7 linked regions of the Homo sapiens genome follow. The protein of the gene in region 3 purifies or fractionates together with the protein of the main gene of each other region. This does not show direct contact. Each region holds a gene or a part of one and is shown on either strand. Other genes may lie near its edges.

Region 1 (3,500 bases), on a different chromosome or scaffold from region 3:
AAAAACACAACTTGAGCCAATATTGGGCTCTTGGAAGATACTTAGAGATCTGGTTTCTTATTCCATAATCCATGTGCCTGTGAAAATGGGAAAAAGAAACTTTGACAGGGATAGCCATATGTTTCAGGAAAAAAAAAAGGGAGAGCCTCTTTTTCAGACTAGTCCTCCACGTTTAAAATGTGAGAGAGCTTGTTTGCACCTTCCACACCGGCCCGTCCTACTCATTTATGTGAGTGGTGCGGGGACATGCTGGCTTAGAGTTTGCCGCCCATGCTTGAAGCTCCTCGGTGCCGGCACCTTGGTACAGGCCCTAGTTCTTTTGACCTAGAAAGCTTTTTTTTTGTTTGTTTCCAGCCATTTCCTTTTTTTAATTTACAGTTTGCGTTCAGTGCAAACCCATAGCATGAGACATTACTATGAATCAAAATGTAAATACACAAACACAATATAGAATCCAAAACAGAGGTGCAGCTTTCAGGAATGAAGCAGAAGACAGGTTCATTCACATGCACAGTAGCTTCAGGGCTGTGTGATCTGGTTGTTCCCATGTAGCTTCCTAAAGATGGAAAAAAATGATTTTGGTCATCAAGACTACTGTGGCCATATTAGATACTGGAACCGTAGAAAGTTCTTCATAAGAGCTTTCCAGCAGGTCTGTGCGTTCCCAGTTTCTTCACCCCCCAGTCTCTCCTCTGTGTGCTGTAATTATTTTTCTAAAACACAGACCGCATTTTGTTGTGGATTACTCCTCATTGCTCAAGGATCCAGTCCAGTTCCCAGCAGGGCACTCCACAGCCCCGGCCCTGTAGGTCTTCCAGCCACCCCAGCCAGGAAGCCAGTGCTCCAGTTAAGTCAGCAGACTTGCCGGAAGCCTTTGTGCCTTTGCAGATGCAGCTGTCTGCCAGATGCCCTTTCTTCTCATCTGTTGGAACCATGCCTTGTCCCCTCCCCTGAAACCTGTCAACCTTGCCGCTGCTGAATTCCTTATCTGGCTTCTCTGCCTTTGCAGCCCTTGGCTGTTACAGCACTTCCTACGTATAATTGTGATTCCCTCCGGAGCCATCTCTCTGTAGATTGGAAGCAGTTAATTTCCCTTAATCTTTTTTTCTCCCCCCAGCCCCATACTAGAGACACTCTCCCATGGGTAGTGCATAAATATTTGTTGCATGACAATTTAGTCTTTAATTTCTCACTTTTATGACATTATTGCTTTGTGATATCTTCTACTTTCATGATAGGATGGGTAAATTGCAGGGAGAGGAACTGTAAATACGGATGCTTAATTCTTCCTGCTTTCAATTTTTTTCTGTTAAGTTAAATGTGCTTTTTGTTGCTCCACCTCTCTGATTGGAGCCTCACATTGGGAGCCTGAGGCAGTGGAATATCAAAAGAGGGTAGCCGTTGAATGTTTATTTTCAATGTCAGCCGTGAAACCTACCACTTCGAATAGTGGGGCCTGGAATTCAGGCTCAAAGTCTTTTCCCCATATTTGTTTCCCCCTTTGGCCTCTCTTTTGCTTGAAGCTGTGTACTAGACTCTCATTAACTTTAACAAGAATTACAGATGTGCCCTCAGGGGGCCTCTCACACTGCCTTTATTTGCTGTAATTTTAATGAATTCCACCCGTAGAAGTGTAAGAATAAAAGAGGATATACTTGAGCAAAGGGAAAGAGAGGGTTATTACACATTGTACCTTTTTTTAAAAAAATTGCAGAGTAATGTCAGCTATTCTTCCATTTGTCTCCTTTGGTTGCCAGTGAAAAATAATTTTGGCTGCTTATTTTCCAAAGCAGAAACTGAAGTCAAACACGAACCTTTCCTAGACAAAAATTCACTCATAATCATTTTTGAGAGTCGATATGTACCTTATGCAAAGTGCTGGGAATAAAAAGATGAATTTATTCCCATAAATATGTACACCTACTATGTACCCAGAAAAATTTAAAATAAAAATTTTTAAAAAGATAGATGTATTAACAGGTACTTATATAGCATTTAATATGTTGCAGACATAGTTTTAAATTGTGTCAGTTATTTGTTTCTGCATCATAGAACACCTTAAAACTTAAGTGACTGAAAACAACCACCATTCACTTGCTCGTAGTTTTTTGGGTCAGCAGGTTGGGCTGAGCTCAGCTAGGGGGTTCTTCTGCTGGTCTTGGGATGCCTCATTCTACTGAAGTCGTCATCTGGTTATTCATTTGGAGCCAGATGGTCTACAGTGGTTTCACATATCTGGCAGTTGGTGCTGGCTGTTGGCTGGGACACTTATCTCCAGCACTCTAGCTCAAACATGCTTAAGTGACAGCAATATATATATATATATATATATTTTTTTTTTTTTTTTTTGAGACAGAGTCTTGCTCTGTTGCCCAGGCTAGAGTGCTGTGGCACAATCTTGGCTCACTGCAATCTCCACCTCCCGAGTTCAAGCAATTCTCCTGCCTCAGCCTCCTGAGTAGCTGGGATTACAGGTGTGTGCCAGCACGCCCAGCTAATTTTTGTATTTTTTTTTTTCAGTCGAGATGGGGTTTCACCATGTTAATCAGGCTGATCTCAAACTCCTGACCTCGTGATCCACCTGCCTCGGCTTCCCAAAGTGCTGGGATTATAGGTGTGAGCCACCGCGCTTGGCCATGACAGCAATATTTTAAGAGAGCGGGAGGAGAGGCTGTAAGGTCTTTTGAGACCTAGGCTTGGAAGGTGCAAAGAGTCTGTTGTAAACTCTTGGCCAAAGCCAGTCAAAAGGCCAGCCCAGATTCAAAAGATGGAAAACTAGATTCCACCTCTTCTTATTTTTAAATGGGCCACAAAAATTCTCTATAAAGACTGACTTATTTAATGCTTACAACAACTTGAGGTGGTTGAGGTAGGTTCCTCTATTATTCCCACTGTTCAGATGAGGAAGGTGAGGCATAGCAGAGAGGTTAAGTAACTTGCTCAGGGTCACACAGCTTGGGGCAATACACCATGGTAAGTCCTTTGGAAGTTGCTGCTCATTATTTTTGCCTTACAGCCACTATAGGACCAACTTATTATTTCTCTGCAGCCTTGCAGAGAAAGAGGTCACTCACATTTGCCGTGCAGCTGCCATGTGTTGGAAGCTTCATATATGTAGTACCACTAAACCGTCACAACTAGTCTGAAATGGAGATATTATTATTCCCAGTATTCAGGTGAGGAAACTGAGGCTGATGGAAATTAAGTACAAGTCATACAAGGGGATGATAACCCACTGTTCCATATGCAAGAGTTTGTTTTCCCTAAGTAAACAATAAATGTGCTGGGGCAGATTTTTTGTTTTTTGTTTTTTAAAAAATCTTCTGCTTGCATCTAGGAAGTGTTAAGAAAAAAAAATCTGTTGATTTGTTTATGACAACCCATACATTTCAGAAAAGTAGCTGGAATAATAAACATGTTTTTCAGTTGTCCAGTGGAGCCCCAAAATAGAAGCAAGATGAATATTCCATTCCGCATTGGCAATGCCAAAGGAGATGATG
Region 2 (3,069 bases), on a different chromosome or scaffold from region 3:
TTCTCTTGGCCCCCAAGAGAATAAGCTTTGTTAATTTTGCAGTCATATGGGAAGGAAGCTGTAACTTACAAAAATATTAAAATGAAGTACTTACCACAGTTTGGTATACTCAGTGTCCATCATTGGGGGACATTCTGTTAGTAATTTGGTTATGCCAACCGCACAGATCTTTTTCTCTACATTTCCAGATACCTTCTGAATTTCAGGAATAATAATTTTTTCCAAAACCATTCCAAACATTCTATTAAAGCAAAATAAATCAACTTAATATTAGATTATCACTATAATGAAATAGTAAAATGCTTAGATGTTAGTTACTTCTTATGAATATGATAAATTACTAAATAACAAGACTGCTGTTTTTGATCATCTGAAGAGACTGAAAGTCAAAACATAAAAAAACCCCATCACACCTCTACCCTGTAGCCAAATGCCATAATCTTTTTCTTTTCTTTTTTTTTTTGAGACGGAGTTTCGCTCTTGTTGCCCAGGCTGGAGTGGAACGGTGTGATCTCAGCTCACTACAACCTCCACCTCCTGGGTTCAAGCAATTTGCCTGCCTCAGCCCCCTGAGTAGGTGGGATTACAGGTGCCCACCACCACGCCCGGCAAATTTTTGTATTTTTAGTAGAGATGGGGTTTCATTGTGTTGGCCAGGCTGATCTCGAACTCCTGACCTCAGGTGATCCACCTGCCTCAGCCTCCCAAAGTGCTAGGATTACAGGCGTGAGCCACCATTCCTGGCCCTCTCTGCTTTTTTCTTTAAAAATTACACCTGGCCAGTCTCAAAAAAAAAAAAGAAAAAAAAAAAAAAAAGAGAGAGGAGCAAGGAGGGAAAAAAGGAATCATCCCACCACCCAGAAACAACTAGTTTTAACATTTTTGGGTTATAAGCTTCCCAACTGTCTTTGCTTACATACCTGCAGGTACATAAATGCTAATGGCTATTTAAAATAATTCGGCCAATCATTCTATGTTGTTGCAAACATGCTAGAAGTGAAGTTTTCCGTAATTCTAAATGATGCAAAATCCTCAGTTTATGCGTTAATAGAACCAATTCTTTGAAGTGGAAATATGGCTCAAAGGGTATGGCAATTCTAATGCTCTGGATAAAAAGTGCATACATTTTGCTCTCTAGAAAGATCAGGCTAATTCAGGCTCCCACTAGCAGTGCATGAGATTTCCTCAAAATCCCCTACTGCCGGAAGCCATGTTTTCTGGTCTCCTTTCCAGAGTAATTCATTTTTTAGTCAATGTAGAATTTTTGAGACATAACTGAGGTACAGGGATCTAACTGTCCCCGAAGAAATTTTCCCTAAGAGTTGTTCTTTATCTTATCGTTATAATTGTTTTATTCCCTACTAATGGGAAATGCCACCTAAATACATTCTTTGCATATATACCAGATAAGTCAAAAACAAAGTTAATTTATTGGTCCTAAGTATTTCTCATTTGAAAAATTCTGCTGTGTTTGCATTAGCAGCACATATACTAAAATTGGAACGATATGGATTAGCACGATTTTTTAAAAAAGGGGGAAGGAAAATTCTGGTTTTTTTTTTTAATTATACTTTAAGTTCTAGGGTACATGTGCACAACGTGCAGGTTTGTTACATATGTATACATGTGCCAAGTTGGTTTACTGCACCCATTAACTCGTCATTTACATTAGGTATTTCTGCTAATGCTATCCCTCCCTCTGCCCTCCCTTCCCCTGCCCCCCATCCCACGACAGGCCCCAGAGTGTGATGTTCCCCGCCCTGTGTCCAAGTGTTCTCATTGTTCAATTCCCACCTATGAGTGAGAACATGTGGTGTTTTCTGCTGTTAGTTTTAATAAGGCAGGCTCCTGGAGACAACACTGACCATTTAACATAATATAGAACACTGGCTGTGGAGAATGCCAGTGTGTAGAGTAGATGGTCCTCTAATCTAGAGGATTAGAACAATGATTCCAGGGTGTTTTTTCTTTTTTTGAGATGGAGTCTCACTATATTGCCCAGGCTGGTCTCAAACTCCTGAGCTAAATCCGCCCTCCTCAGCCTCTCAGAGTGTGGGATTACGGGCGTGAGCCACCATGCTGGGCCAGGATTACTTTTTCTTTACTCCCAATACCTAAGAATATTTTGAAAACCATAGACACTATCTCCATACCAAGAACCACATCATCATCTATAAGACAGAGATACTGATTTGTACTAAAAAAAAAGTCAAAACATTTTCTTCCTTTAAAAAATAATAAAAACAAACTTACTTTGGTTGTATACCATCAAATATTTCTTGTAGTGCTAGTGCCCCATATTTTATGCAATACAAATTAATAAAGACTAAAAAACCTGTTGAAAGAAGATGCAGAATATCAGCATAGAGAACTCACGCACTAAACTGGTAACTGATAAGTCTGCAAAATAAACCTATGCTTAATCATTAACATCCAAAGGCTGTGGCATCAATACCTGCCTTCTAGTAAATAGAAAACTTGTCTTTCTGTCATAGACCTTTACATGCTGTCTCTCTTTGATTTATATTTCCTTATAATATTCTCTCTACTGAAAAAATGTTTTGGTATCCAACCATAAACCAACCTCTGGAACACAATATGACTAACACTAACTTAATGTTTGGAGAACACAAACATCTTAAAATATTTTCTTTTTTCTTGTGAGAAGGTTTCACTCTATCACCTAGGCTGGGTGCAGGAGCGTGATCACAGCTCACGCAGCCTTAACTTCCCAGGGTCAAGTGATCCTCCCACCTCAGCCTCCTGAGTAGCTGGGGCTACAGGCACACACCACCATGCTTGGCTGTTTTGTAGAGACAGGGTCTTACCATGTTGCCCAGGCTGGTCGTTAACTCCTGGACTCAAGGAATACTCCCACTTTCACCTCCCAAAGTGCTGGGATTACAGATGAGAGCCACTGCACCAGGCCCTTACAATATTTTCTTTTTTTTTTTTGAGACAGGGTCTCACTCTGTCACCTAGGATGGAGTGCAGTGGGTGTAATCTTGGCTCACTGCAGCCTCAACCTCTGGGACTTAGGTGATGCTCCTACTTCAGCCTCCCAAGCAG
Region 3 (3,500 bases):
GCATGATCTTCTGGAACCTCCCATAGCCCCATCCAGCTACAGACTGATCATCTCCACCATTTGGCAGGCAAGAGAAACTGAAGTCCAAGAGGGCCACGCAGCCAAGAAGCTGCAGGACCAACCCTGCTCTTAGCACCGGGACCAGAGGCACAGGCATCAGGCCTCTCATCTCCACGCTCCTGCCAGGACCCCTGGGGCATCTCCTTGTTCACTGTGGCCTGGCCATCCTGCAGAGCTGAGCTCAGCTGCACCTCCTCCTCTGGGAAGCCGCCTTGGATTTCCTCAACCCCACAGAGCTAGCTGGTCTCAACATCAGGCATTTGACCACCGGCAAACACCCCTCTGGCAGGGCCAGGCTCATCAGGCCTCTGCTGGCATGGTCTGAGAGTCAATCAACCAACAAGCATTCACAGAAAGCGGTGCCAGGACTCTCTTGGCTCTCCTCGGAGGGCTGGGATGGCCTGTCCCTCTCCTCTCCTCACCCCTGCTCCCAGCAAGGCCGTCCGTTGTGCCCAAGACCATCTAGGACATTCTCATCCCCCTGAGACCTCAAGGGCCTTCCTGCCTCCTCCCTCAGACGTGAGGGTGAGATCCTGCCTCTACCATTGGAGCGCCACAGCCCACCTGCCTCCTCTGTCAAAAAAACCTCCTTGTACCATCTCTCACTTGAGACCTCTGCTAGGCCTGCCTCCTCCATCTGACCTCCACATCCCATCAGCAGCCACCCTGGGCCCTGCATGCACTGGCCTCCTCCCTCAGACGCTCCTTGCACCATATCACTTGCATTAGACGCTCTCCTAGGCCTGCCTCCCCCCTCAGACCACCACATCACATCTACACATGCTGGCTTCTTCCCTCAGACCCTCCTTGCCCCGTGTCACCCGGCGTCAGACGCTCTCCCAGGCCCGCCTCCCCGCTTGGACCACCACATCACATCTACACGCACCAGCCTCCTCCCTCAGACCCTCCTTGCACCATGTCACCCCCATCAGATGCTCTCCCAGGCCTGCTGCCCTGCCTGGACCACCACATCACATCTATATGCACTGGCCTCCTCTCTCAGACTCTCCTTGTGCCATATCACCTACTTTACATATTCTCCTAGACTCGCCTCCCCTCTCAGACCACCACATCACATCTATACCCACCAGCCTCCTCCCTCAGATGCTCCGTGCCCCGTGTCGCCCCCATTGGGCACTCTCCAAGGCCCACTTCCCCTCTCAGACCACCACATCATACCCACACGCACTGGCCTCCTCCCTCAGGCCCTCCTGGCCCCGTGTCACCACCATCAGACACCCTCCCCGCTGGCCGCTCCGCTCAGGCCACCACACCTCACCTCGCTCACGCACGAAGTAGGCCAGGTAGAGGTCCAGCTCCTTGACGGCCACGCCAATGTGGTGCGGCTGCACGCACAGGACCGGGTGACCGCACTGCGCAGCCTTGACCAGGCGCTCGCCGTCGGTGCTCTCCAGCGGGATGCCCTTGAACAGGATGACCATGACCAGGTCCAGCCGCCACACCTTGTCCGCCTGCCGGAGACAGTCGATGCGCCGCATCTTGCCCTTCTGGTCGGGGTTGGAGAGCACGCAGCCCGGCGCCTTCTTGCCGGTGATGCTCAGCACGAAGTCCTCGCGGCACTCGGGCCGGATGTCCTTGCGCAGCTTGGCCAGCAGCCGCGACGCCCACTTCTGCTTGACCTCGGGCTTCTCGCCCAGCAGCTCGTCCTTGACCGCACGCTCCTCGTCCTTCGACATCCGCTTCTCGTGCTTCTTGAAGTACTTGCGCTTCCGCGCCTGCAGGTTGAACCAGGTGTAGGCGAAGGCGCGGACGTGAGGCAGCAGGGCCTCGATGAACGGGTGGAACTCATCCTGCAGGCCGGAGAGGCGAGAGGTCAGGAGCGCCAGGGACGCAGAGGGCGGACCCACTGCCCGGCCCCGAAGGCTGAGGTCGGAGGGGCCCTGAACAGACCCGCAGAGTGGGAGGGGCTGGGCAGAGGTGGGCAGGGGGTCGCTGCGGACCCGTGCACGCCGCCGGAGGCACGCAAAAGGCCCGGGGGACCCAGGAGAAGTTTATCAGGGACCTGCAAGAACCCATCGCCCAGATGAGCAAACAGACTTGGACTATGTGAGAGGCACAAATCAAGGCGGAAGTTTGTGGAGGATCATTTTTTTTTTTTTTTTTTTTGAGACGGAGTCTTGCTCTTAACGCTAAGGCTGGAGTGCAGTGGCGCAATCTCGGCCCACTGCAACCTCCACCTCCCGGGTTCAAGCGATTCTCCTGCCTCAGCCTCCCGAGTAGCTAGGATTACAGATGCCCACCACCACGCCCAGCTAATTTTTGTATTTTTAGGAAAGATGGGGTTTCACCATGTTGGCCAGGATGGTCTCGATCTCCTGACCTCTGATCCGCCCGCCTCGGCTCTCGGCCTCCCCAAGTGCTGGGATGACAGGTGTGAGCCACCATGCCCAGCCGTGGAGGACCTATGTTGAACCCCAGCATGCAGATGGAGCAAGCTAAGGGGGCCAGGTGGAGGCTCATGGACAACCCATTGTACAGACGGGTAAAACTGAGGTTGGGAGAACAAAGATGTCAGGGACCTATTCTCTGCCTATTGCAGCTAGGGTTGGGCTGGGTGTAATGGCTCACACTTGTAATCCCAGCGCTTCGGGAGGCCGAGGAGGGAGGACTGCTTGAGCCCAGAAGTTTGAGACCAGTCTGAGCCATATGGTAAAACCCCATCGCTACAAAACAAATGAACAAACAAAATCAAAAAAACAAAAATTAGCCAGGTATGGTGGTTTGCAACTGTAGTCCCAGCTAGTTGGGAGGCTGGGGTGGGAGGATCATTTGAGCCCAGGAGTTTAATGCTGCAGTGAGCTGTGATGGTGCCACTGCACTCCAGCCTGGGCGACAGAGCAAGACTGTCACAAAAAAAAAAAAAAAAAAAAAAAGCCTGGGCGCAGTGGCTCACACCTGTAATCCCAGCACTTTGGGAGACCGAAGCAGGTGGATCACCTGAGGTTAGGAGCTTGAGACCAGCCCGGCCAACATGGCAAAACCCCGTCCCTACTAAAAATACAAAAAAATGTAGCCAGGCATATTGGAGCACACCTGTAATCCCAGCTACTCAGGAGGCTGAGACAGGAGAATCGCTTGAACCTGGGAGGCAGAGGTTGCAGTGAGCTCAGATTGTGCCACTGCACTCCAGCCTGGGAGCCTGGGTGCCAAGAGTGAAACACTGTCTCAAAAAAAAAAAAAAAAAAAAAAAAAGAACAAGGCTGGGCACGGTGGCTCACGCTTGTAATCCCAGCACTTTGGGAGGCCAAGGCGGGCAGATCACGAGGTCAGGAGATTGAGACCATCCTGGCTAACACAGTGAAACCCCGTCTCTACTGAAAAAAAAACAAAAAAATTAGCCGGGCGTGGTGTCGGGCGCCTGTAGTCCCAGCTACTCAGGAGGCTGAGGCAGGAGATTGGCATGAACCCGGGAGGCGGAG
Region 4 (3,500 bases), on a different chromosome or scaffold from region 3:
AGGCATGAGCCACTGTGCCTGGTCCAAACAAAAATTTATATATGAATGTTTATAGTAGCATTATTCATAATTGCCAAAAGGTAGAAACAATTGAAATATACATCAACAGAAGAATGGTTTAAAAAATGTGGGTTATTCATACAATGGAATATTATTAAACCATAAAAAAGGAAGTACTTACTAATACATGGTACAACATGGGTGAACTGTGAAAACATGCTAAATAAAAGTCAGACCAAAAAGGCAACAGACAGGATGATTCTAGGTATATGAAATACTTAGAATAGGCAAATCCGTAGATCAGAAAGCAGATTAGTGGTTACCAGGGCCTTAGGGTAGGGTTGAAATGGGGAGTGACTGCTTTATGGGATGATGAACAGTTCTGTAACTAGATAGTGGAGATGGTTGCGTAACTTTGTGAATGTACTTAATGCCATTGAATTGCACATTTTAAAATGGTTAAACTAGTAAATCTTATGTTTTGTGTATTTTATCACAATAGAGAATATTTTTTAAAAAAGAGAACAAATTTGCTTTTATTTTGGAGGTTACAAATTTTAAGAAACTTTCTGAGAGCTCCTACAATATGAACATGAGTTCTTGCATCCAGGGCTCTGCAGTGTTTACTGGACTTCCATTTTCATGCTCGGTCAGGTTACTTTAGTGTTTTTCCCAAAGTATGTGATGCCCAAGATGATTTTAGGTGATAAGGATATTATTGCTTAGAATAAGGATAGGACAAATGAGCACATTTAAAGAAAAATATGTAGCAAATAATCACATAGATGACAAGCAGATATGACAGAATTCATGATGATGGTATTCAAATGAATGAAGTTCATTTAGTGAAGTTTCAGAAATACTGGATAGTCTCAAACTCCGATTTTTTTGGTGAGTTCAATTTTAGATTACAATCACTAAGTATACCTCATAAGTATGTACTTTACGAACTGATGATTGGAAAGAGAGAATGGAAAAATGAATTTTAGCTTTTACTTTTTTGTGTAATATCCTAGCAAAAACTGATCCTAAAAATGAAGAGGAAGAAAAGCGGCGAATTGAGGCTCGGCGAGAGAAACAAAGGCGCAGAAGAGAAAAAAACAGTGAGAAATACGGAGATGGATACAGGTTTGTACTTAGAGTCAGAAAATTAGGTTCATTAAAAAATGATTTCCTAGAAAAAGCCAACACATCAATTGTAATATTAAAAAGTTCTTAAGATTCAAATGAAAAGACTTGTTCAAAGATACAGAGGAATGCTTTTGGTTTTTGATATTTATATGTAATCACTACTTAGAAAACATAAGAAAAAAGGCATTCTATTCATATTGGCAATCCAAAAGATATCAAATATTCAGAAATAACAGTATTCTTAAAAAGAAACACTTGTCATTGAGATTTGACTGTATGGAGTCATAGTGATTTTCATGGGCAGGAATTAAATATTACAAATATGTAAGTTCTTTCCAATCCAGATCCCAAAGGAAATTCTGAAGAAGAGTAAATGAGTAGGTACTGGCTTTTATAGATAATCAATCATTAAAAAGCTATAATAGTTAAAAATATGTGGTAATACACAAAGCTAATTATTATACCAGATTAGCCTGTGAACAGACTGTAAGGAAGAATGTAATATTTAATAAAGAGGATATTAGAAATAAGAGGGGAATTGGGCTAGGCACAGTGGCTCATGCCTGTAATCCCAGCACTTTGGGAGGCCGAGGCGGGCAGATCACGAGGTCAGGAGATCAAGACCATCCTGGCTAACACGGTGAAACCCCGTCTCTACTAAAAAAATACAAAAAAAAATTAGCCAGGTGTGGTGGGTGCCTGTAGTCCCAGCTACTCGGGAGGCTGAGGCGGGACGATGGCGTGAACCCGGGAGTCGGAGCTTGCAGTGAGATGAGATTGAGCCACTGCACTCCAGCCTGGGCAACAGAGCGAGACTCTGTCTCAAAAAAAAAAAGAGGGGAATTGGTTGAACAATGAAATAACAACAAAAATCAGTTTAGAGCCTCCTCATATGACACCTGGAATGAATGTAGTAAAAAAAAAATGAAATTACAGAAAAACAAAATGTTCTGCAAGGAGATTTTTTTCCCAGGCTTAAAAGTTATAGAATAAATTACAAAGGAAATTATGAGCAGATTTGGCTAAATAAAAACTTAAAATTTGAAAGGAGTGCAAACAGACTTGGAAAATATAAACATGAGAAATGATTAATGTCCAAGTTAGATTAAAACATCACCCAAATTATTTTAAAAAGTAAGAAAACTAAGCTGTTTAATATGATGAGGAAACAAAAAACAGCTAGTAATAATTTTAAGGAAATTGTTTAAACTTAACAGTAATTTCATTAAACTAAAAATTTAAATAATAGTATGCCATTTTATTACTAAGGAGAAATTTGATTTGCTAATTAAGGAATGGTCAAAGGACGCTTAAAATTTGTTGGTGACAGTATATTATAACTATTAGCAATTTAGCAGTTTTTTAAAAATGTCTAAATTTTTCTTAAAGCCTTGAGCCCAGAATTTTGAGGCCAGCCTGGGCAACGTGGCAAGACCTCATCTCTAAACAAAACAAAACAATCCATAAAAAGAAGAGTAGTTCTAGTTTCAAGAACTACTGCTATTTTTAGTCCTTGTGAGTTCTCTGTCCCATTCATTATCTCTTGTGATTCCTTCTTTTGGTAGAAGTAACAGGCATAGTTAATATTTTGGTGTAGAAATGACTTTAAATTATCAGCGTCTTGGAGTGTAAAAATCATTTTACATTATAAGATGCAATTTTTTAAATTTAATTGCCCTATGAGTACTTTTCTCATGAAAAATTTTAGATATGGATTATGTTCATGTTAATATAATATATAAAATTGTGATATAGAGAAAATGAAAGAATTGAACTTTCATTTAGCTATTTTCTCTGTAACTCTAAATATAAATCTGATGATATAACCAAAAGAATGTTAACTCATAAATTATCATTTTAGGATATAATTTATTTAAAGTAGTCTAAGTTATTTTCATTTATCAGAGCAGTTTTACTTTGAGTTATGAGGATTCGAGATTGAGTAAATCACTATTCTTGTGATAGGTTCCTTCCCTTGGATATTTGAATGCTTCCCACATAATAAAGCACATGGAAAGGTTTATATCTACCCTTAAGGGAACCTAGGGAGAAAGAGATGGATGTGTGAGAGATGTACATAAATAATAGTGTATGGTGAAGGATACCAGGAGTACAATGTAGTCTCATGAGATATAACTTCTAAATAAGGGTATAGGAGACCAAGCATGGTAGCTCATGCCTGTAATTCCAGTACCTTGGGAGGCCAAGGCAGGCGGATTGCTTGAGCCTAGGAGTTCAAAACCAGCTTGGGCAACATGGTGAAACCTCATTTCTACAAAAAATACAAAAATTAGCCAGGTGTGGTGGCACGTGCCTGTGGTCCCAGCCACTTGGGAGGCTGAGGTAGGAGGATAGCTTGAGCTTGGGAG
Region 5 (3,500 bases), on a different chromosome or scaffold from region 3:
GCCCGCCATCCATGCCATGCTGGACGTACCTCCCCAGGCACAGAGCTCCAGGAGAGGACTCCCGGGATGACCCCCACAGTACAGAAGGGAGGGGCTCAGAACCTGAGGGCGACTTCCAACAATGTCCTGGGGCCCTGCTGGGGGGTCTGGGTCCTAGGGAGTAGGCTTCAACACAGGCAAGGATAAGACAGACAGAAGCAACAGGACCACTCGGCCCCTGTGGGGAGTGTGTGCTGGTATAGTCACCAGTGCATGGCAGGGCCCTTTCTCCAAGTCCTCCTAGAGGACTCCTCGGACATGGGCATGGCCAGGTGCCTCCACGCATGTTCACGCGCCATGATTTATCATTAGTGAAGACCTCAGATGACCAATCGCCGCCACAGTTAGCAACAAGCCCGAACCTCAAAACCTCAAAACACGCCACTCAGCCAACAAAGCAAGCTGCAGAAGGATCCGTTGAATAAGATGATATTTACATAAAAACCTAAGTAGGAGGCCGGGCATGGTGGCTCACGCCTGTAATCCCAGCACTTTAGGAGGCTGAGGCAGGCGGAGCGCTTGAGTCCAGGAGTTTCAGACAAGCCTGGGCAACATGGCGAAACCCCGTCTCTACTAAAAATACAAAAAAATTAGCCGGGCGTGGAGGCACGTGCCCGTAGTCCCAGCTACTTTAGGGGGCTGAGGCAGAAGGATGGCTTGGGCCCAGGAGATTGAGGTTGCAGTGAGCCCAGATCATGCCTCCGCACTCCAGCCTGGGTGACAGCGTGAGACATTGTCTCTCAAAAAAACAAAACAAAACAAAAAACCTAAGTAAGCAAAACAGCAGCTTGAATGGTCAGGAACATACTCCTGCTGAAAAGAACCAAAGACATGCCTGGGAATGACAGCCACACGTTCAGGGGTCGGGGAGCGTTGGGGCTGGCTGCATGGGGAGTCCGCGGCACCTGCAAGGCTGGCGACAGGCAGGGTGGGGTAGGTGTTCTGTGCATCTGAAACACTCATTAACCAGCCAGGCCACAGAGGCCTTCCAGGACTTCCTTTCTTCCTTCCTGTACCCAGAGCTGGCCTCCTGCTTCTGTGCAGGCTGTGCCTACCTGTCCACGTACACTGGCTGGCCAGCTCTGGTTTCTCGCCCCCACCTTGGAAGGGCCTTTGTCCAGATGCCCCTGAGCTCCAGGTGCTCAGATGGTGCAGCTGCCATTCACTGAGTGCCCACTGCATGGGGCACCGCTCAACACTGTGCACCAGGGAGGACAGGAGGTCCTAGACCCGGGCAGGGTCACGGGCCAGCAGCCAGCCGGACCAGGTGGGGCCTCCCCGCCCCCGCCTGCCCTGGCACTCACAGGGTGGTCTGCTTTTCCGGTTGAAGTGGTGGTGAGGAGTAAGCCCCGGCTGGGAACACACTGTCTCAACCTGCTGCTGGACCCATCCCCCTCTGTGTCCACATTATCTCAAACACAGCCAGTGGCCCTCTGTGCCGTGGGGAGACCTACCTGAGACAACACAGAACCCAGCCTGGCTCATGATGGCAGCGCTAACAATCGCCTTCCATAGCAGGAACTCAGGAGGCGGCTCCTGGGACTGGCCTGTGTGCCAGTCCTCCTAGGAGGCAGTGTGGGCGGGGTGGGGTCGGGTGTGCCCTGGCCTCTGTGTGAACCTGCTCTGCACCTCCCTCAGGCCCTACCTGCTTCAGCACCACATCCGGGTCATAGTTCATGACCGTGAAGTGCTTCTCGTAGTCATCCAGGTCGTTGAGTGCAAAGGCCCTGGAAGACAAGTGTGCAGACACATATGGGTTCTTGAGCGGCCTTGTCCCTGCGAGGGAGGTGCCACCCACTCAGCCTTCCCAACTAGGGGTTCAGGGCTCAGGGCAGGACCACCTGCTGCTCAGGCGGGAGCCTGTTCCCTTGTCTGTGTGGCTGGGGGAGCCCCACAGCCCCACTGAGCTGGGGTGGAGGTGAGTGAGGTGCTAGCTGTGAAGCCTCTGCAGGTCCATAAAAATGGCACCTGGTTCTCATGTTGGTGCCCATTTTACAAAGAATGTTCACATCCATTACTGTGGGCAACACCAGAACTCTGAGGTGGGCAGGGCAAGTCACCGCCAATTAACACCAAGGGAGATGGGCTCCAAGGGCCGCTAGCTGGGTGAGTGATGGAGGGTGCCTTCCAACAACATTTTCTGATTCCAAAAAGGGCCCATCACCCACCCGCTACCTCCACCCGGTCACCCAGCTCCCCGACCCTGGACCCAGCCGGCCCTCCACTTACCGGTTGGAGAACCGCAGCCAGAACACATCATACACGAACAACCGTAGGGGCCTCACTGACCGCAGCAGCACGATGTAGCGGATGTCGAACTTGACCTTTCCCACGTCTTCTCGAAGGAACAACACGGGACTTTCGATGTACTTGGACACAACCTGGAGGACACAGGTGCAAGCTCGCTGGTGGCCAGGACAGAGCCCCCTGGGGCTCCCGAGCACACAAAGCCACGCAGGGGGCACAGACATGGCTGCACTTTACTCCTCCTTCTGCCTTTTCAAACCTGCCTAAGTTGCTGCAAAGTCTTTTTTTTTTTTTTGAGACAGAGTTTTGTTCTGTTGCCCAAGCTGGAGTGCGGTGGCACAATGTTGGCTCACTGCAACCTCTGCCTCCCGGGTTCAAGCGATTCTCCTGCCTCAGCCTCCTGAGTAGCTGGGATTACAGGTGCCCGCCACCACCCCCAGCTAATTTCTGTATTTTTAGTAGAGAAGGGGTTTCTCCATGTTGGCCAGGCTGGTTTCGAACTCTTGACCTCAGGTGATCCGCCCACCTTGGCCTCCCAAAGTGCTGGGATTACAGGTGTGAGCCACCGCACCCTGAAGCAAAGTCTTTATATCCATTTTTAATTGAAATGAAATATAAATTCTCACCCATAATTCCATCCACCCCCATCCCATGGCCTGAAGTCTCCACGACAATCGTCCTCATGATGCATTTCCCGCCAGCCTCTGACTATGTACACAGTCCAGGCAGATCCTGTGTCCTGCAATCCCAATACTGCTTCTGGATGTCCCCTCACTATGAATCTTTACCACGGCTCTGAGAGGCTCCTTGTCCAGGCTCAGCCACCTCACCCTGCTGGGCAGCCATACCTGGCACACTATGTGGTAGGAACTTTGCGATTAGACGCACCCAGGACAGTTCTTTTTTTAAAGACTGGGTCTTGCTCTGTCGCCCAGGGCGGAGTGCAGTGACGCGATCACAGCTCACTGCAGCCTCAACCTCCCGGGCTCAAGTGATCCTCCTGCCTTAGCCTCCTGAGAAGCTGGGACTACAGGTGTGTGCCAACATGCCCAGATAATTTTTAAAGTTTTTTCCCTTGTAGAAACGAGGTCTCCCTATGTTGCTCAGGTTGGTTCCAAACTTCTGGGCTCAAGTGATCCTCCTCCACTTCCCAGAGTGCTGAGATTACAGGTGTAAGCCACCCTGCCCAGCCTGGACCTGTCCATAAGGACCAT
Region 6 (3,500 bases), on a different chromosome or scaffold from region 3:
AGGGTTTCACCATGTTGACTAGGCTGGTCGTGAACTCTGGGCTCAAGCAGTCCACCCACCTTGCCCTCCCAGAGTGCTGGGATTACAGGCATGAGCCACTGCGCCCAGCCTGACAATGGCATTTAAAAGATGTCATGGCTATGTAAAAAAATGTTTCCACTGTTGTACGTACACATCTGCACATGCAAGAAAATTTCTCAAATCTTTCTTCCTTTTCTTTTCTCTTCTCTTCTTTCTCTTCTTTTCTTTTCTTTTCTTTTTTTGAGACAGGGTCTCACTCTGTTGCCCAGGCTGGAGTGCAGTGGCGCGATCTCGGCTCACCACAACCTCTGCCTCCCGGGTTCAAGTGATTTTCCTGCCTCAGCCTCCCTAGTAGCTGGGACTACAGGCGCCCGCCACCGCACCCGGCTAATTTTTGTATTTTTAGTAGGACGAGGTTTCACCATGTTGGCCAGGCTTGGTCTTGAGCTCCTGACCTCAGGTGATCTGCCTGCCTCGGCCTCCCAAAGTGCTGGGATTACAGGTGTGAGCCACTGCATCTGGTCAAATTTCTCAAATATTTCTATTGTGATAAAATGTATGTAACACAGGCTGGGCGCGGTGGCTCACGCCTATAATCCCAGCACTTTGGGAGACCGAGGTAGGTGGATCACGAGGTCAGGAGATCAAGACCATCCTGGCCAACATGGTGAAACCCCGTCTCTACTAAAAATACAACTAATTAGCTGGTCATGGTGGCGTGTTCCTGTAATCCCAGCTACTCAGGAGGCTGAGGCAGGAGAATTGAACCAGGGAGGCAGAGGTTGCAGTGAGCTGAGATCACGCCACTGCACTCCACCCTGGCGACAGAGCAAGACTCTGTCTCAAAAAAAAAAAAAAAAAAAAAAGTAACAAAGCGTACCATTTTAACCAGTTTTTAAAATTAAAAAAAAATTTTTTTTTTTTTAGAGATGGGGGGGGTCTCACTTTGTCACGGAGGCTGGAGTGCAGTGGTGCAATCCTAGCTCATTGCAGCCTCGAACTCCTGGAGTCCAGTGATCCTCCTGCTTAGTGTCCTGAGTAGCTGGGATTACAAGGCATGTGCTATTGTGCCTGGCTAATTTTTTTTTTTTTAATTTTTTGTAGAGCTGGGGTCTCACTATGCTGCCCCGGGCTGGTCTCGAACTCCTGGCCTCAAGCAATCCTCCTGCCTTGGCCTCCCAAAGTGCTGGGATTACAGGCGTGAGCTACTGCGCCTGGCCCATTTTAACCATTTTTAAGTGTACAGGTCAGTGGCATTAAGTGCATTCACATTGCTGTGTAGCCATCACCACCGTCTGTCTCCAGAACTCTTTGCTCATCCCAACTGAAACTCTCTACCCATTTAACAATCACTCCCATCCCCACAGTCCCTGGTAACCACCATTCTACCTCATCTCTGTAAATTTGACTATTCTAGGCATCTCACATAAATGATAAATGGAGGCATACAATATTTGTCTTCTTTGACTTATTTTACTGAGCATATGTTGAACGTTCCTCCATACTGTAGTATATGTCAGTACTGCATTCCTTTTTGTTGCTGAGTAATATTCGTGTGTGTGTGTGTGTGTGTGTGTGTGTGTCTAGACCACATTCCGTGTATTCATCTATTCGTAATGGACACTTGGGTTGTTTCCATCTGTTGCCATTGTGAATAGTGCTGCAGTGAACATTGGTATACAAGTATCTGTTTGAATCCTACTTTCAGTTCTTTTGGGTATATACCCAGGAAGTAGAATCTCTGGATCATACGGTCATTCTATTTTTACTTTTTTGAGGACTACCAAACGGTTTTCTGTAGCAACTGCACCATTTTATATTCCCACCAGCAATGCACAAGGATTCCAATTTCTCCACATCCTTGCCAACATTTGTTATTATTTATTTATTTATTGAGATGAAGTCTCGCCCTGTCGCCAGGCTGGAGTGCAGTGGCGCGATCTCGGCTCGCTGGAACCTCTGCCTCCCGGGTTCAAGTGATTTTCCTGCCTCAGCCTCCCGAATAGCTGGGACTACAGGTGCCTGCCACCATGCCCAGTTAATTTTTTTAATATTTTTAGTAGAGACAGGGTTTCACCGTGTTAGCCAGGACGGTCTCCATCTCTTGACCTCGTGATCTGCCCGCCTTGGCCTCCCAAAGTGCTGGGACTACAGGCATGAGCCACCGCGCCCGGCCTAGGGTTTTTTAATATATTCTAGATATTAATCCCTTATCAGATATGTGATTTGCAAATATTTTCTCCTATTCTGTGGGTTGTCTTTTCACCCTCTTGATCATGCTCTTTGATGTACAAAAATTTTAGTTTTAGTGAAGTACAATTTATCTTTTTTTTTTTTTTGTCTGTGCTTTTGGTGCTATATCCAAGAAATCTTTACTAAATCCAGTGTCATGAACATTTTTTCCCTAGATTTTCTTCTAAGAGTTTTAAAGGGTTTTTTTGTTGGTTTGTTTATTGTTTTTTGAGGCAGGGTCTCATTTTATTGCCTAGGCCGGAGTGCAGTGGCGTGAACACGGCTCACTGCAGCCTTGACCTCTCCAGCTCAAGTGATCCTCCTGCCTCAGCCCCACAAGTAGCTGGGACTACAGGCATGCGCAGTCAGGCCCAGCTAATTTTTGTATTTTTTTGTAGAGACAGGTTTTCACCGTGTTGCCTGGGCTAGTCTTGAACTTCTGCGCTCTGGTGATCCACCTGCCTCAGCCTCCCAAAGTGTTTCAGATTACAGGTGTGAGCCACTGCAACCGGCCAGGTTTGAGCTCTTAAGTTTAGATCTCTGATCTTTATATACTTATTATTATTTTTTTTTATAGAGATGGAGTCTTGCTGTGTTGCCCAGGCTGGTCTTGAACTCCTTGGCTCAAGCAAACCTCCCATGATGGCCTCCCAAGGTGCTGGGACTACAGGTATGAGCTACTGCACCTGGCCTCTTTACTTTTCAAATTAAACTTTTTATTTTGACATAATTATAAATTCACATGCCGTTGCAGGAAATAATACAGAGATCCTAGGTGCCCTTGGGTTTTGTTTTTTTATTTAGCATTTAGTCCATTTACATTTAATGAAATATGATACATTTGGGTTTAATCTGCTATCTTACTCTATATATTCAAATTGCCTATTCTCTGTTCATTTTTCTCTCTAGTCTTCTTTTAGGTTAATTTTTATTATCCTATTTTTCCTCTTCTATTAGCTTGAAAGTTATATGCTCTTTTCTCAGTTTTAAGTGGTCACCCTAGAATTTAAAGCAGGCATTCATGTTGTACCAAAGACTAATGATAATGTGTACTTTACCTTCTTCCTGGACAGTGCAAGGATCCTAACACACTTTAACTCCATTTATTGTTGTCATTTGTTTTAATTATTTCTGTTTTAAATCACACAACCCATTGTTTTGTGCAGTCAGATATTTAGATTTTCACCCTTATAGTCACTGTATTTGTTGTTCTTCGTTCCTTCTGGAATCTGACTTTACATCTGGAT
Region 7 (3,500 bases), on a different chromosome or scaffold from region 3:
TGACTTGGTTCTAGCAAGGACTGAGGAAGGTATCAAGTTTTAGGTACCATTGCAGGAATGATTCATAATCTAAGAAAGGCTTTCATGTGAGGTAGTAAAAGCACCCGTCAAAGCAATAATTTTGTTTTTGTACTATTTTTAATTATTTGGTTTGGATTAACCAAAAAATTGAACGAGATCATCTTAAATTATTTTCATTTATAATATTAAATAAGGAAAACAAAAGAAAATGAGGTCTGACTTTTTTACTGCCTTGTAAATGGGGTAGAACAAGGAAAAAAGGACAATTTAATGATGAAACCAGTACATTTAGTTTTATCTTTATTTATGTATGAATCCCGACAAAGTTGAGATAAATAAGAAAAATTATAAGGGAAAAGCCAGTGGTTAACTATTATAATTTTTCAGTGAGAACACTGCCCATATTTTATAAATATGTGTGTATATATAAAATTGTTATATATGCATAAATCAGTTTTTATTATTTCAAAAAACATTCTTATTATTCTGCATGTCATAAAAAGTCAAGAGGCTTGAATTTTTTTTTTTTTTTTTGAGACAAGTCTCGCTCTGTTGCCCAGACTGGAGTGCAGTGGCGCAATCTCAGCTTACTGCAACCTCCGCCTCCCAGGTTCAAGCGGTTCTCTGCCTCAGCCTCCCGAGCAGCTGGGATTACAGGTGCCCGCCACCATGCCCAGCTTTTATTTTTAGTAGAGACGGGGTTTCACCATCTTGGCCAGGCTGGTCTTGAACTCCTGACCTTGTGATCCACCCACTTCAGCCTCCCGAAGTGTTGGGATTATGGGCATGAGCCACTGCACTGTCCAAGAGGCTTGAATTTGTTAGCATCTCAGCAGTAGAGCAAACCTTCTATTGTTCCTATATATTATAAATTACGTTTAGATCCTAAAATTTGGGATAGTCTTCAGATTCTCTTAAATTTTTGTCAGTATACCTTTTTAGCTTTTTAAAAAATGAGATTAGACTAATAGATTTTAATATTTTATATTTTAGTTACCACCACCCTGTGAATCTGCCTGCACAGTACCAACAGACGGTAAGATTTCTATTCCAGTAAAATTTCATTAAACATTACACAGTTATGGAAAAATTATGTTACTTTTATTTTTAGTTGACAAATGATAATTAAATATATTTATGGGTACAGTGTGATGTTTTGATATATGTTTACAATGTGGAATGATTAAATCTGGCTAATTACGAAATCATTACCTCACATACTTAATCATTATTTGTTGTGTGGTAAAAACATTTGAAATCTACTCTTAGCAATTTTGAAATAGATGTTACAGTCACCATCCTGTGCAATAGATCACTAAAGCTTATTCCTTTTGTCTAACTAAAACTTGGTACCCTTTGACCATCGCCTGCCCTTTCCCCATCCTTCAGCTCCTGGCAACCACCATTCTACTCTCTACCTCTATGAATTTACCTTTTTTATATTGCACATATAAATGAGATCATGTGGTATTTGTCTTTCTGTACCTGGCTTGTTTTTTGTTTTTTGACACAGAGTCACCCAGGCTGTCACTCTGTCACCCAGGCTGGAGTGCAGGGGCACAATCACAGCTCATTGTACCCGTAACCCCCCCAAGTTAAAGTGATTCTCCCATCTCAGCCTCCCAAATAGCTGGGACTGCAGACATGTGCCACCATACCTGTCTAATTTTTTTATAATTTGTAGAGATAGAGTTTCACCATGTTGCCCAAGCTGGTCTCAAACCAGGTCTCGAACCAGGCTGGTCTTGAACACTAATCAGGCCGGGTTTCGCCATGTCACCCAGGCTGGCGATCCACCTACCTTGTCCTCCCAAAGTGCTAGGATTACAGGCGTGAGCCACTGCACGCAGCCACGTACATATTTTTAACATACACAGGAAGAGAGGGAAGAAGGGTGAGAAGAGAAGCATTTTTAGAATTCTGTAGTGTACGTGGGAAGGAAGATGAGCTGCTACATACCACCTTTAGTGCCACACTGTATCACAGTGGTTTCCAAACCATGACCCATTGTGCCCCTCTGAGTTCCATGGAGGTGCCCGCTGGACACTGGAGGGGACCCTGAGTGGGCTGATCTCCACATTCCCACCTGGCCACAGGCTGCTTCACCCAGAAAACAGTTCTCTCCTCCTTAGATGTCAGAATTCTCTGTAAGATTTTTCTGGTAAGAAAATGATTCTGCCACTTAAAAAAACAAGTTTGAAGGCTGGGTGTGGTGGCTCACACCTGTCATCCCAGCACTTTGGGAGGCTGAGGCGGGCGGATCACTTGAGCCCAGGAGTTCGAGACCAGCCTGGCCAACATGGAGAAACCATGTCTCTACAAAAAAAAAATACAAAAATTTGCTAGATGTGGTGGCACACGTCTGTAATACCAGCTGCTGGGGAGACTGAGGCACGAGAATTGCTTGAACCTGGAAGATGGAGGTTGCAGTGAGCCATGATTGCTGCCACTGCACTGCAATCTGGGCAAGAGAGTGAGACCCTGTCTCGAAATTAAAAAAAAAAGTTTGAAAATCACACTATGCAATTAGCATGAAGTGTAAGGAAGCCCAAAAGAAAACACCTGCATTTGCTGTAGAGAAATTTTGTATGTATGCCTGTTAATTTTCAGGTAATTCATAGTAGGATTCATTAAAGCAAGTATATTAGTCTTTGTTATATGTTAGGTGTATTTTTGATTCTCAACAGGAATTCTAATTTGTTTTTCTTTTCTCTGAATACAGTGGATAAGTGGTTCCATCACCAGAAAAACTAATGAGATTTCTCTGGAATACAAGCTGATATTGCTACATCGTGTTCATCTGGATGTATTAGAAGTAAAAGTAGTAGCTTTTCAAAGCTTTAAATTTGTAGAACTCATCTAACTAAAGTAAATTCTGCTGTGACTAATCCAATATACTCAGAATGTTATCCATCTAAAGCATTTTTCATATCTCAACTAAGATAACTTTTAGCACATGCTTAAATATCAAAGCAGTTGTCATTTGGAAGTCACTTGTGAATAGATGTGCAAGGGGAGCACATATTGGATGTATATGTTACCATATGTTAGGAAATAAAATTATTTTGCTGAAACTTGGCTTAGGATATTTTTATTTTAATCTGAAGCCAACATTAAGTAGGTATGGGTATTTTTTGGTGTTTGTTTTCTGTTGATAGTCTTATAATTCAAATTTATAATTATTAGACGAAGAAATCGCTTATATTTATAGTACTCTTGATACTATGCTCTAGTACATAAGTCCTAGCATACCATTCTAAAGCAAAAGTTTTTAAATTTATATCATATTAGCAGAAAGCACAATGTTGCTCACCCTTTGAAGTTATATATTAATAGTTATTTTTTTACTTCTTCAGTCAACTAATTGGACGCTTAAGTCATTTATATTATATTCTAAGTTATCAGCTGAACAAACCAGTTTGAATGCCAGCCCATCTTCTTACTAGCTCTGTAATCTTAAGTCAGTTTACCAACCACTC

Evidence for each region.
Region 1: the proteins of NFIC (region 3) and PSAT1 purify together in Homo sapiens (affinity purification with mass spectrometry, with the first as the bait; one large-scale study listed by BioGRID). This does not show direct contact.
Region 2: the proteins of NFIC (region 3) and CSE1L fractionate together in Homo sapiens (co-fractionation; one large-scale study listed by BioGRID). This does not show direct contact.
Region 4: the proteins of NFIC (region 3) and ZNF326 purify together in Homo sapiens (affinity purification with mass spectrometry, with the first as the bait; one large-scale study listed by BioGRID). This does not show direct contact.
Region 5: the proteins of NFIC (region 3) and TTLL12 purify together in Homo sapiens (affinity purification with mass spectrometry, with the first as the bait; one large-scale study listed by BioGRID). This does not show direct contact.
Region 6: the proteins of NFIC (region 3) and LMAN2 purify together in Homo sapiens (affinity purification with mass spectrometry, with the first as the bait; one large-scale study listed by BioGRID). This does not show direct contact.
Region 7: the proteins of NFIC (region 3) and PPA1 purify together in Homo sapiens (affinity purification with mass spectrometry, with the first as the bait; one large-scale study listed by BioGRID). This does not show direct contact.

The regions. Positions count from the first base shown.
Region 1 is NC_000009.12:78,324,625-78,328,124, forward strand, and holds part of PSAT1 (phosphoserine aminotransferase), read left to right. Parts: intron 1-3,426; coding exon 3,427-3,500. UniProt on the Homo sapiens protein: Involved in L-serine biosynthesis via the phosphorylated pathway, a three-step pathway converting the glycolytic intermediate 3-phospho-D-glycerate into L-serine.
Region 2 is NC_000020.11:49,091,312-49,094,380, reverse strand, and holds part of CSE1L (exportin-2), read right to left. Parts: intron 2,336-3,069; coding exon 2,254-2,335; intron 242-2,253; coding exon 95-241; intron 1-94. UniProt on the Homo sapiens protein: Export receptor for importin-alpha. Mediates importin-alpha re-export from the nucleus to the cytoplasm after import substrates (cargos) have been released into the nucleoplasm.
Region 3 is NC_000019.10:3,380,083-3,383,582, reverse strand, and holds part of NFIC (nuclear factor 1 C-type), read right to left. Parts: intron 1,872-3,500; coding exon 1,340-1,871; intron 1-1,339.
Region 4 is NC_000001.11:90,012,110-90,015,609, forward strand, and holds part of ZNF326 (DBIRD complex subunit ZNF326), read left to right. Parts: intron 1-1,016; coding exon 1,017-1,128; intron 1,129-3,500. UniProt on the Homo sapiens protein: Core component of the DBIRD complex, a multiprotein complex that acts at the interface between core mRNP particles and RNA polymerase II (RNAPII) and integrates transcript elongation with the regulation of alternative splicing: the DBIRD complex affects local transcript elongation rates and alternative splicing of a large set of exons embedded in (A + T)-rich DNA regions.
Region 5 is NC_000022.11:43,170,135-43,173,634, forward strand, and holds part of TTLL12 (tubulin--tyrosine ligase-like protein 12), read right to left. Parts: intron 2,421-3,500; coding exon 2,269-2,420; intron 1,767-2,268; coding exon 1,685-1,766; intron 1-1,684. UniProt on the Homo sapiens protein: Negatively regulates post-translational modifications of tubulin, including detyrosination of the C-terminus and polyglutamylation of glutamate residues. Also, indirectly promotes histone H4 trimethylation at 'Lys-20' (H4K20me3).
Region 6 is NC_000005.10:177,341,669-177,345,168, reverse strand, and holds part of LMAN2 (vesicular integral-membrane protein VIP36 precursor), read left to right. Parts: intron 1-3,500. UniProt on the Homo sapiens protein: Plays a role as an intracellular lectin in the early secretory pathway. Interacts with N-acetyl-D-galactosamine and high-mannose type glycans and may also bind to O-linked glycans.
Region 7 is NC_000010.11:70,202,430-70,205,929, reverse strand, and holds the end of PPA1 (inorganic pyrophosphatase), read left to right. Parts: intron 1-1,014; coding exon 1,015-1,057; intron 1,058-2,743; coding exon 2,744-2,775; 3' UTR 2,776-3,095; downstream 3,096-3,500.